Linked DNA regions of Homo sapiens. The protein of the gene in region 3 interacts with the protein of the main gene of each other region in a pairwise test. Each region holds a gene or a part of one and is shown on either strand. Other genes may lie near its edges.

Region 1 (2,235 bases), on a different chromosome or scaffold from region 3:
TCCATATATCCATCATTCAACATCCCTAATATTAATATCTTTCATAACCATAATCCACTTATCACACCAAAGAAATTAACTGTGTACAGTATTCTTAACTAAACTGCAGACTTTATTTTACCATTTTTCTGTTATTATTAACTTATTTTATTTTAAGTTCTAGGACCATGGTTCATTGTAGCACTATTCACATATTTATTTTAATGTTCTTTTTTTCTGTTCTTGGATCCAATTCACATTGCATTTGGTTTTTATACTTCTTAGTCACCTCCAATTGCTCATGGTTCATTCGTCTTTTCTTGGCTTTTATGACCTTACAATTTTAGAGAGCCAGATATTTTGTGGAATATTCCCCAATTGAATCTGTCTAAGGTTTCCTCATATGTAGATTGAGGTTATACATTTGGGAAGAGATGTAACTCTTGTCTTGTGCCATCTCAGGGAGTCATGATGCCAATAAATCTTTGAGTAATTCTGGAATTGTTTTAAAATTCAGATTTTTAATAGAAGTCCTTTTCTTACTATATACCCAGAATCAACGAAGTCAAAAATCAAAGTCTTTGCCACGGTTTAGAATCATATATAAAATGATAGCTACATGTGAAGTATAAACCAAAGAGAATGATATTGCTCCACAAAAAGTGATGAAACACCTTATCACTCAACATTTTACAAGTGAATGCTGCCACCATGACTTCTCTTACACGCTTATCATCCTTCCTTATCACTTTGGAGCTACACTCTTATTCCCAAGTCTGCATATATGTATTTAGGCTGAAGGATATTATTGGGTGAAAGTAGGATTTTTAAAAAATGGAAGCCATCACGTCCATAACCCCAGGCTTTGGGAGGCCGAGGCGGGCGGATCTTGAGGTCAGGAGATCAAGACCATCCTGGCCAACATGGCGAAACCCCATCTCTACTAAAAATACAAAAATTAGCTGGGCGTGGTGGCACGCACCAGCTATTCATAAGGCTGAGGCAGAGAATCCAGGAGAATCACTTGAAACCAGGAGGTGGAGGTTGCAGTGAGATTGTGCCACTGCACTCCAGCCAGGCAACAGAGCTAGTCTCTGTCTCACAACAACAACAACAACAACAACAACAAGTGGAAGCCATGTGGGTTACTCTTGGTTGCTGGTAATGTAGTTTAAATTTGACATCTGAAATAAACGAGTCATCAAAATAGGAGATGGATCTCTTATTAAAGGTACATTATTTCATTATATTCAACATTCCTGAGAAACAGCAAAGTTGTCTTGGATGTATTGGTTACAAGGAATATTTTAGATGGTTTCAATGCTAATTAGTGTGGAATGTGAATCTAACAGTGCCTGTGATTTGTCCCACATACCATTCATGTGGCATTTAAGGCCCTTATTATAAGCTTAAAACTTTAAACTTAAAACTCTATAAACTTAAAACTCTAGAATCTGATCCTGCTATACAACTGAGCCTACCTTTCTTGAAACCATGAGCTTTGATAACAACTACCATGGTGGCCAGGGCTATGCCAAAGGAGGCCTGGGCTGCAGCTATGGCTGTGGTCTTAGCGGCTATGGCTATGCCTGCTACTGCCCATGGTGTTATGAAAGATCTTGGTTTTCTGGCTGCTTCTGAGAAATTAGAGATTGCTGATCTGTTTAGGCCATTCTCTTATGAGCTATGTTTTCTTCCCGTGTTTTTTTCTGTTCAAAGAGTGACAACTAAAATTTAGCCCACATTGCCAAGTCAGAATTTATTTGATCAATTAGCTGGAATTTCCAACAATTTAATCAAACGAAAAAAGAACCTTTGATGTTGTGTTACTAGTATATGATTAAGTACAAATAATGTTAAGCATTTTCATTTGGGAAAAAGTCTAAATTTATTTTTCTTCAAAGGTAATTTATTTTGCAAACCTACAGCATTTTCCTACCTATATTTATTTATCTAGAGTACCTATATTATTTGTGATTGTGTGTGTGTGTTCAGGAGCACATATGTAAGGTTGCTGACCCATTGGAAACTTACAGTTGATGATGTGGATGTGTTAGGTCTGACCAATAGTACTTTGATAAAATGTATTCTCATGGGCAGAGCCAAGTGGTACTATAATTTACTTTGATCTATCAAAGCCTCATCTTCAGTGTATCCAATGTTTGACTAAAATCATTGGCAAAAATAGTACCTCCCTTCTCATCACTTTATTCTGTTGCACATACATTACATTTCTTGATACTTAGTTGCATTTTT
Region 2 (2,264 bases), on a different chromosome or scaffold from region 3:
GTCGCTTCCACTTAACAAACAGTAAATATAAATTCTCTTCCTTATTATTTTCATAACATTTTCTTTTCTCTTATTTACTTTATTGTAAGAATACAGTATATAATGCATATAAAACACAAAGTATGTGTTAATCAACTGTTTATGTTATCAGTGAGGCTTCCAGTCAACAGTCGGCTACCAGTAGTTAGGTTTCTGGAGAGTCAAAAGTTATATGTGGATTTTCAACTGCATGGGGGAATCAGTACTGCTAACCCCTACATTATTCAAGGGTCAACTGTGACCTTTGAATGTGAATATATACATGCACACACATACATACAGCTATATAGATAGGTGCATGTATATACAAAATTATTTTGTTATATATAATATACTTCTATATGTATAGTAGTTTGTTCTTTTTTCACTGGATATAATTACAAATAACCACTTTGCCATTTTGAGTCAAGCAAAAAACAAAAGTCGTGTATTTGCTTTCAGTTAGCATAATTTATTCTAAAAGGAACAGAGAAACCCCACAGTTATAAAGGTACAAGTAAGACACATCCAGAGACATAAAGCAAAGAATTATGGAATGATAGGTATTCTTAAACCTCTTAGATGCTAACTGCTCTTGATCTTGGCTTGATCCAGGGTGACCTCGTTTGTTTGTTATTGCAGTCAGGTTTGGGTGATCTTCTTATGTCCCCTCATGTTAGGTTGTCAGGGAAGGATTTCAATAAAATCCAGAGAATCCATATCCTCCATAGCATGATGGACGGCAGCTGCGGTATCCATAGCCTCCGAAGCCAGAGCCGTATCCGTAGCCTCCGTAGCCACCGCCATAGCCCAGTCTGCGGAAGCTGCCACATCCACAGCCATAGCCATAGCCCAGGTCATCGAAGCCTCCGTAGCCGTAGCCCAGGCCTCCATAGTAGTTGCCGTAGTAGTTCATGGTGTCAGGAGTGGTGAGTTGGTATGCTGCTCAAGGCAAGATCCTGAGTGTGAACACCAGCATGTGTAGGAGGCTTATATACCCTGGTCAGAGCGTGTGATGAGTCATCTGTATACCCTCCTTTGCTATAGTTATTTGTATTACGTTTGATGTTACAACTCATTTATCTATTGTCTTCTGATGTAGGGAGATGCCCTCATTCTCATTAAAATATTTCAGCTTACTTAATGTCTTATTCAGGACACGATTGAACTTACTGCTTTGCTTTTATGAAAAGAAAGGGCTTACTGTTCAAAATATGCACATTCCAAATGCTCAACAGAATTGCCTATTACCAGGTGTATTACATCATCTACACTTTATGGTATTCCTTTTATAATGAATAATTTCCTTTGTCCGTCATCTTCCAAACTGATAACTTCATATTCAACTAAATTTACAGCTGTTTTTTCAATTTACAGATGTTAAATCTATAGTTTTAAAAAGCAAACTTATTTATCAAGGTGAGGTCTTCAGAAAGTGCCTATATGCACAATACAGGAAAACATTTGAAATCAAAATGATTTTAATGCCCTGCTGTGTACAATCGCCAAAGGACTCAAAAAAAGAGAGTGTATGCTGATTTTTAGCATTTTATTCACAATAACTTTTATACTATTTTTGACTTTGCACACCAGCTTCAGAACCTTTTGGTTGCAAAATACATAAGAATTAATTTCAGAAATTGAGGGCACAAAATCCATCTCCTACGCAGACTTATCAGAGTAGCACTTTAGTTTTCCATTCAAGTCCTAAAACTCTCCTTTATAATTGGTTTTATTCAAAGTCCTGGTAAAATTGCAGATTGCATCTGCCTCTGTTTTGCACATTCTAGTCAATTACTTTCTTTCTTTATCATTTTTCAGTAGTGTATATATGACCTCTATTTCCTTTCTCATTTCAGCTTTTATTCTTCTTCCCATTTTCTTAATGTCTATAGAAACAGCCAGGTAGAAGTTTATTGCATACATTCCCTCTGTCTTCCATCGACTTATCTCAACGCTTTTTTTTTTCTATCTCCTCTTTGTATTCACTGTAACATCTTTCCTGATTTTTTTGTTTGTTTGTTTTTTGAGACGGAGTCTCACTCTGTCGCCCAGTCTGGAGTGCAGTGGCACCATCTCGGCTTACTACAAGCTCCGCCTCCCGGGTTCACGCCATTCTCCTGCCTCAACCTCCCCAGTAGCTGGGACTACAGGCGCCCGCCACCACGCCTGGCTATTTTTTTTGGATTTTTAGTACAGACGGGGTTTCACCATGTTAGCCAGAATGGTCTTGATCTCCTGATCTC
Region 3 (4,288 bases):
TCCCTAAGGACAATTGTTAATCAGTTTCCTGTATACCCTTCCAGAAATATATGCAGATGTGGCATATGTCCAATTAAAGAAACCTGATACATACTGTTAGAACTGTTCAGCATCTTGGTTTCAATTTTTATATAAAATTTAGGATTACGAAATATACCAAAGCAGCATAGAAAATGAGCCCCCCATCCCCCTGCCCCATGGCCCACCACACAGGTTAACAGATGTTAACATTTTGCATTGGCGCCTTGTTTATGGCTGTCTTGGAGATAGCCCCGTGTCGCCTCCAGCTGCCTCTTTGTGGTAACTGCCCAAGAGTCGTTATTGATTATATGCATGCACCCAATATTCATTATTCGACCTGTTCCAGCTCTTGGATATTTAGCAAATTACTGATTTTCTGCTTATATAATTGTGGTGGAGGTAATACCCCATTTTGTATAAATTTTGCCCGGGTGGGTGGGCTTCGAGGCAAAGGAGAACGAGGCTCGGCTTTGGATTAGGTTCACACTCCTGCTCCGCCACACTTCTAGTTGTGTGATCTGGAGTAAGGGAAGGCCCTCACTTTCCCCATCTGTAAAATGAACTGGCTATAGTAATCCCTCCGTCTCATAGCTGCTGAGAGGAATAGAAAACTAAAGTATAGACGCTTCACTGGGCTTAGTTCCCAGTTTCCCTGGCTAGGGAGGTCTCCGCGGGGACACCAAACTCTCAAGCCCAGCCTAGCAGCTAGAGCGCCCAGCGCCTGCACTTTTGCTTTAAACTACAACCTGTTCCCCGCCTCTCTTCCTCCACCGCCACGCTGGGGGCGTGGCGGTTAAATGTCTCTGTGACGTCAGCGCGAGCAGGGCCAATCTCCTTGCCCGGCAGACGTTAGCTCGTTTGCATGGGTGGTCCGCCATTGGTCTGTTGGGCAATCTGGGCCGTACCAGCTTTTTAAAGACGCCGTGTAGTATAAACAAGGAGAAGTGGGGCGGCCGGGCCATGATGTCAGCGCGGTGCTGCAGCTCTTGGGGGTGACGTCATCTCCGGGAAGGTGGCCGGCCCAGGGTTGTTAGAGCCAGCATAACCACTTGGGCCGCTCTCGCCCCGTCAGAGGTCAGACCCATTGCACTTCAGTATCTCAGGCGGCACCCTGTCCCCGAGGAGGGGACCATGACACAGTAAGTCCGTACTGCCGGTTCTCCTGGCGGGACCCATTTCTTCGGCAGGGAAACTGAGCCTCAGAGGCGCGAGTAGTTAGCGAGTTTGCATAGCAAGTTCGAGTTGCAGCCGATCGGTTTTGCCCACCCTGGGGTCTCCCCATCTTTATGTCAGGATATGCGGCCCCGCCCCTTGCTTTTGACTATGGCTGCGGTCCCTTTAAGTGCGAAGGTGGGGGCGAGGAGGAGGTTAAAAAAATTCAAGATGGTGGCCCACTAGTCACGTGCGTGGTCGCGGCGAGTGATTGGCTCTCAGGGCGGAGCTCCCGGCGCGGGGCGGGGCCCCTGCGGGCTTGCAGCGGGCTACTGTTTGCCGGAGCCTCCCGGCGCGCCCCCGCGAGCCCCCTCCCGTCTGGCGCGCGACCCCGCCGCTTCGAATGTTGTGAATCAAATGTGGGGTTTGTTACATTCCGCTGCCGCCGCGGACAGTTCTTAAAGGGCCAGCCGCCGGCTGCCGCGCAGACCCAGCTGCGTCCTGCGCCGCCTCCCGCTCCCTGAGGGCCTGGGCCGAGAGAGACTGATCGCGCGTGGGCCTCGCGAGGCAGACGCCGTCGGGCGGACAACAAAGAGAGAGGCCCCGGAAGGAGCCGGGCTGCCCCCGGACCCGGGGGTGGGGAGGGGAGCACATTGTTCCGCAGGGCGGGAGCTCTTAAAGGATCCAGACAGGCACCCCCCCCCTCCCCCGCCCCCTGCCCAGTTTGGCCGTCCTAGATCGGGAACAAAGGAGTCAACGTGTGGCCGGGCGGCCAAAGGTGAGTCGGTGCCAGGGCCCCCAACTTCCTATTCCCCCACCCATGGACCTTCTGTTCCCCTCCCCTGGGAATGGGGGCCGTGATCTAGGTGGCTCCGTAGGGGTTAATCACGGGCGGTCCAGACTGCGGGCAGCGAGACCCCAGGGATCAGGAACCCCCCCCAAGGCCCCCCGTGGCCGGGCCGTATCTCCCCTCTCCTGCAGCTGAGCGCTGCGGTTGGAGAGGAAGGAGCCGCCCCCCTCCCCCTGCGGCCGCCACTTCCTTTGTTGTTGCTTTTGTCTCACGCCGAGCACATGGTCCGGGATCCTCGGCTCTTAAAGTCGCAGCGTTCTGGCCCCTGCGCTGCAGTCTCGCCTCCCGCCCCCGGTGTCCCTCCGAGAGCGGCGCAAAAGAGTAGGAAGCGGACGAGGGAGGCCCCTCTCGGGGCTGTGTCCGCGCCTCGGCCCCCCAGCACTATGCCTGGGGAGGGGTGGCTGGGTAAGCTTCCCAGAGCCCCACAGCGTGCACTTGGCCCGCGTTGGGGAGCCCCCCCTTCCCCAGGACCCTGGTTTCCTCCCCCACTAGTGTGACCACCTGGTTTCTTCTGGACTCTTCTGGTTTTATTTGGGCGCTGTGGGAAGGAAAGATTTCCACCCCCATTTTATAGCTGTGCCAACTGAGGCGCTCAGAAGCAAAGGGATTTCCTTGACCAAGGTCACTAGGGAGTCTTCTCTCCTAGTCTGGTGGTCCGGCCCTCAGCGGCCTCCAGGCACCACACGTTGGGAAGCTCTGCTTGCGCTGGGCAGAGCCTGCTTGTTTCGGGTGGGGTGTGGGGAAGTAGGAAGGGGGGCTTCTCTTCCTGGCTGAGTCTGCTCATGCCCCCAGGGTCTGACTTTGTTTTTATCTGCAAAAGGGAGTGTCTCTTCCTGCAAACAGATCCCTGGGGCTCTTAGACCAAGGTCAGGGTAGGTGCTTGGGGCACTGGACTTAAGGGGTTGGCCGGCTCTCATGGGTGGGTGTGGGGGGTTATGTTAACTGCAAAATGCATTGCGTGCCTGGGGCGGACGGGGCTCAGCGACGGGACTCTCAAGACCCGTTCACACAGAGCTCCGTGATAGGACAGCATGGAGATGTGGACGGGCAGAGCAGTTGTTAGGGGAGGCCACCTGGCCACCCTTGCTATTTGACCTTGAGCAAGTTGCTAGCTCCAACTCTGGGCCTTGCTTGCTTCTCTGTACTACAGAGCTAAAGATGGGTGCCTGAAAGAGAGTGCTCTCCCAGCCTCCTGTATGGCTTGGAGACTCGGGATTAGGTGATTTCCTCCAGCTACTGATGCCACAGGAGTTATGGCTTGGGGGAGTTTGGGCCTAGGAGGCCAACTAGGACCAATTCCGTTCTCTCTGGTCTTGTGGCCTAGAGTAACTTACTTCCTTTCTCTCGGCTCCAGTTTTCTCAGCCATGAAGTGGGTGTAACCCTTCTACGCCACCCCTGTTCCTGGCAGGGCTTAAAGAACCAGGATCCACTCTTACCAGCTGAGGTATTCCCCTAGAGTGGCATATCTGCCTGCTGCCCCGGAAGTGGCACCCTTCAAGCTCTGCTTGAGGTTGGAAATGGAGGTCAGCGTGTCGTATTCGCTAATAATGATCATTCACACCCAAGCTAAGTTCAAACTTTACAAGTTGCTTCTGCTGTTGCCTTGGAGCAGTCCTTGATGGGAAACTGGGAGGTAGTTATTGGGCTGTTCCCATTTTACAGATGAAGATACTGAGGCTCGGGAGGGGAAGCCCTTGCCCACGGTCTGTAGGCAAGAATCTCGCTAGAAGTCACTGTCATGTGTGAGTCTGTGAGGGCTGACATTCTTACCCACGGCTGGAGGCCCTTCTGTCTCCTGGCTTGCTTTCACAGCTCCTTACCACCTTCCCTGCCCTGGGGAGTGGGTGCCTTTGTAGGGGGCTGGCCACAGAGCAGACACCCACAGGCCTGGGCCTCTGCAGGAGTGCCTTGGGCCTGGCACTACTCAGCCATCTGCAAGACATCCTGACATAAGAGGAGCAGTCAAGGCTGCTGGCTTGGTGGCTAGTCATGGGTGCTTTATGGCCAGACTGCTTAGGTCATGCACCTGCGCACTCACGATTCCAGCTGACTGGCCTTGGACCTCACCTCTCTGAGCCTTGGTGTCCTGACCTGCCAGTGTTGCTGGGAGGACTCACCAAGTTGGCGCCGGGGAAACAGCATGGTTATTATGGTGACTGTTCTGCACCAGCAGAACTATGGGCTCCCCAGCTTTCTGAGGTTAGCTAGGGTAGAGATTCCCAAATCTAGCTGTGCTGTGACAACTTCTGGGGAATTTGTTAAAC
Region 4 (2,609 bases), on a different chromosome or scaffold from region 3:
TGCCGCATTTCAGTGGGAGTTGCCTCAGTCAAATATTGGACAATGGCCTTCAGGGAGATGCTAAATATAGAATGTAGTTCTGAGTAGGAAATGAGTGAAACTTCCCAATCTCCTTGCCGCAACCTCAACTGAAGGGTGGACAAAAAGCAAACACATGCCTGGCCAGAACAGGGGTACCAAGAAGACGTTCAGCTAACAGCAACCAACGTTGCACAGCAGAATATGAGAATGACACTATCCTTAGTGATTCCAGGAACACTTGAGGGACACTTGAGAGGGGCTGACATCCTAAGTAAATAGACAGGCAAGTTATTTTTATCTCTTGTTAATATGATATCTTATTTGTTCTCAAGCTTCCGTTAACACAGTAAACTAGAAACATTTTCATCATATTCCACCATGGAGCCACAGATCTCACTGCCTCATAAGTAAACTTTTTATAGTAGTTGCAAAATAAAATGTTAAATATGACAATGGAAACATTGACAAGAACTAAAATATTTATACTTTACTTCATTTATTAGATAAAAGCAAAATACAAGTTTTTGCTAGGATCTTGATAGATAACATCAAGGTAATGGTGGTAAGAAAAATAAAGCAAATTTAGAAGAACAACCTAGAGTAGTTATACATGAATATGATTTCAGGTGACGGACTCCGAAAGTAAAAAGACAACAAATATTCACAGAAGCAGCTTAAATCTATTTTAAAGATTTAACATAGCTAAATATCTCTCCATTGATGCTGAAGGCAATAGAATGGATTTTTGGAATGAAAGCACGGGACAGGACCAAACACATTTGGAGGTTTCTCCTCTGCTTCCAATTTCAGCAATTCATTTAATAAAAGCCAGAGAATCCGTATCCTCCATTGTACGATGGGCGGCAGCAGCCATATCCATAGCCTCCAAAGCCAGAGCCATATCCGTAGCCTCCAAAGCCAGAGCCATATCCGTAGCTTCCAAAGCCAGAGCCATATCCGTAGCCTCCATAGCCACAGCCAGAACCCCGTCTGCAGAAGCTGCCACATCCACAGCCATAGCCATAGCCCAGGCCACCGAAGCCTCCACAGCTGTAGCCCAGGCCTCCGTAGTAGCTGCCGTAGTGACTCATGGTGTCAGGAGTGGTGAGTTGGTTTGTTGTTCAGGCAAGATCCTGAGTGTGAATGCCAGCATGTATAGGAGGTTTATATACCCTGGTCAGAGCATGTGATAAACATGTGCCCCTCTTTTTGTGTCATTCCATGAATTATACTTGCCTGAGGCAGCTCGTTAATCTATTGTCCCCTGACAACACTCAGTAAGATTGCCTGAGCTTGTTTGGCTACCTAGTTAGGTTGTCCCTGAGCTTGCTGCTTTAATTTTATTAGAAGGGATTGCTGCTTCTTCAAAGTCTAAAACATACCAAACCTTAAATAGAATTCTTTATTACCAGTCACTTAACATCAGTCACATTAAAAATTCTTGAATTTCTATTCAAATATATTCTCATCACTAGCATTTTTGGACGTGGTTATAGTTGATTCCACAAAATTTCAAGAAATAGCCAAGGTCAAGACTCTTACTTTCATCAGTTTCTTCATAAAACACACATATTTTGTAGAGTGAGAAGCAAGAAAGATTTGATTCATCTGTGTATGTACCTGAAAGAAACAAATGTCACCTAATTTGTAGACTTTTAAAACTTTGATCATGCACAATTGTTATATTTATTTTGGGCTTTGCACAACAGCATACAAAATATTTGTTTTGTTTTAAGAACATAGCACAATTGTAGTCATAAGTGGAGAGACTCTTACAGGGATCAAAAGCCCATCTCATCTGGTCTTTCCAGAGTTTTCTATTTATATCTCAAGTCCCTTCTCCATTATATGTTCTAACCTCACTGTTACCAAAAAATGAAGATTATAATCTGCCTTCATACAGAATTGTTTCTCTTTCTCTACCTTTTGTCATTAATTCATCCCTCTTGCATCTTTTGCTGATCTCACTTCAAATTTCACCCAACTTCTTTTCCTCCACAATTCATTACTATAACCAGGTAAAAGTTTGAAGTAGGTAAAATGTTCTGGCTACAACCTATTTACTCAAATCAACATTCATTCTTTCCATTTAGATCTCCATAGTCAATATTTGCCCTTGTCTTTGCCTATTCTGTGCCCATGTTTTTTGTTGTGCTTTGTTTTAACCGCTTTCTAGTTATCTTTTCCTGAGAAATCAACTAGATCTTCTAAGATATTGATTATGGTGTTTCTTGTTTAAAACATTTTTCAACTCTTCAAATTATCTGAAATTTAAAAAAATATTTGTGCAACTTAGATTAACACGAAATTCTCTAAATGTAAGGGACAATTGTGAAAAATATAGAAAAGAAGGAGTAGCTCTGTAGGGAGAGTTGACCAGTGAGTCCCTCAGCTCAGCCCATAGAGTTAGAAATGCCCAAGGCTTACCTCATACCTGATTAAGCCTCATCCAGATGTACCTATATCTTGAAACTTGGAACTCCAGAAAGGTATCAGTTTTATATGACTATAATCATACTACTAAGATTTTTTTGAGATTTATGAGTAACCGAATGACACATTTTAAAATTTTTATTTTATTTAAATTT

Evidence for each region. Proteins that work in one complex are often made in the same cells at the same time.
Region 1: the proteins of RNF44 (region 3) and KRTAP22-1 interact in a two-hybrid assay, tested with the Homo sapiens proteins (one large-scale study listed by BioGRID).
Region 2: the proteins of RNF44 (region 3) and KRTAP19-5 interact in binary tests that used the Homo sapiens proteins (3 or more experiments, as listed by UniProt).
Region 4: the proteins of RNF44 (region 3) and KRTAP19-1 interact in binary tests that used the Homo sapiens proteins (3 or more experiments, as listed by UniProt).

The regions. Positions count from the first base shown.
Region 1 is NC_000021.9:30,599,648-30,601,882, forward strand, and holds KRTAP22-1 (keratin-associated protein 22-1), read left to right. Parts: upstream 1-1,439; 5' UTR 1,440-1,473; coding exon 1,474-1,620; 3' UTR 1,621-1,735; downstream 1,736-2,235. UniProt on the Homo sapiens protein: In the hair cortex, hair keratin intermediate filaments are embedded in an interfilamentous matrix, consisting of hair keratin-associated proteins (KRTAP), which are essential for the formation of a rigid and resistant hair shaft through their extensive disulfide bond cross-linking with abundant cysteine residues of hair keratins.
Region 2 is NC_000021.9:30,501,157-30,503,420, forward strand, and holds KRTAP19-5 (keratin-associated protein 19-5), read right to left. Parts: upstream 986-2,264; 5' UTR 935-985; coding exon 716-934; 3' UTR 501-715; downstream 1-500. UniProt on the Homo sapiens protein: In the hair cortex, hair keratin intermediate filaments are embedded in an interfilamentous matrix, consisting of hair keratin-associated proteins (KRTAP), which are essential for the formation of a rigid and resistant hair shaft through their extensive disulfide bond cross-linking with abundant cysteine residues of hair keratins.
Region 3 is NC_000005.10:176,534,603-176,538,890, reverse strand, and holds the start of RNF44 (RING finger protein 44), read left to right. Parts: upstream 1-1,488; 5' UTR 1,489-1,951; intron 1,952-2,242; exon of another isoform or gene 2,243-2,428; intron 2,429-4,288.
Region 4 is NC_000021.9:30,479,206-30,481,814, forward strand, and holds KRTAP19-1 (keratin-associated protein 19-1), read right to left. Parts: upstream 1,163-2,609; 5' UTR 1,113-1,162; coding exon 840-1,112; 3' UTR 501-839; downstream 1-500. UniProt on the Homo sapiens protein: In the hair cortex, hair keratin intermediate filaments are embedded in an interfilamentous matrix, consisting of hair keratin-associated proteins (KRTAP), which are essential for the formation of a rigid and resistant hair shaft through their extensive disulfide bond cross-linking with abundant cysteine residues of hair keratins.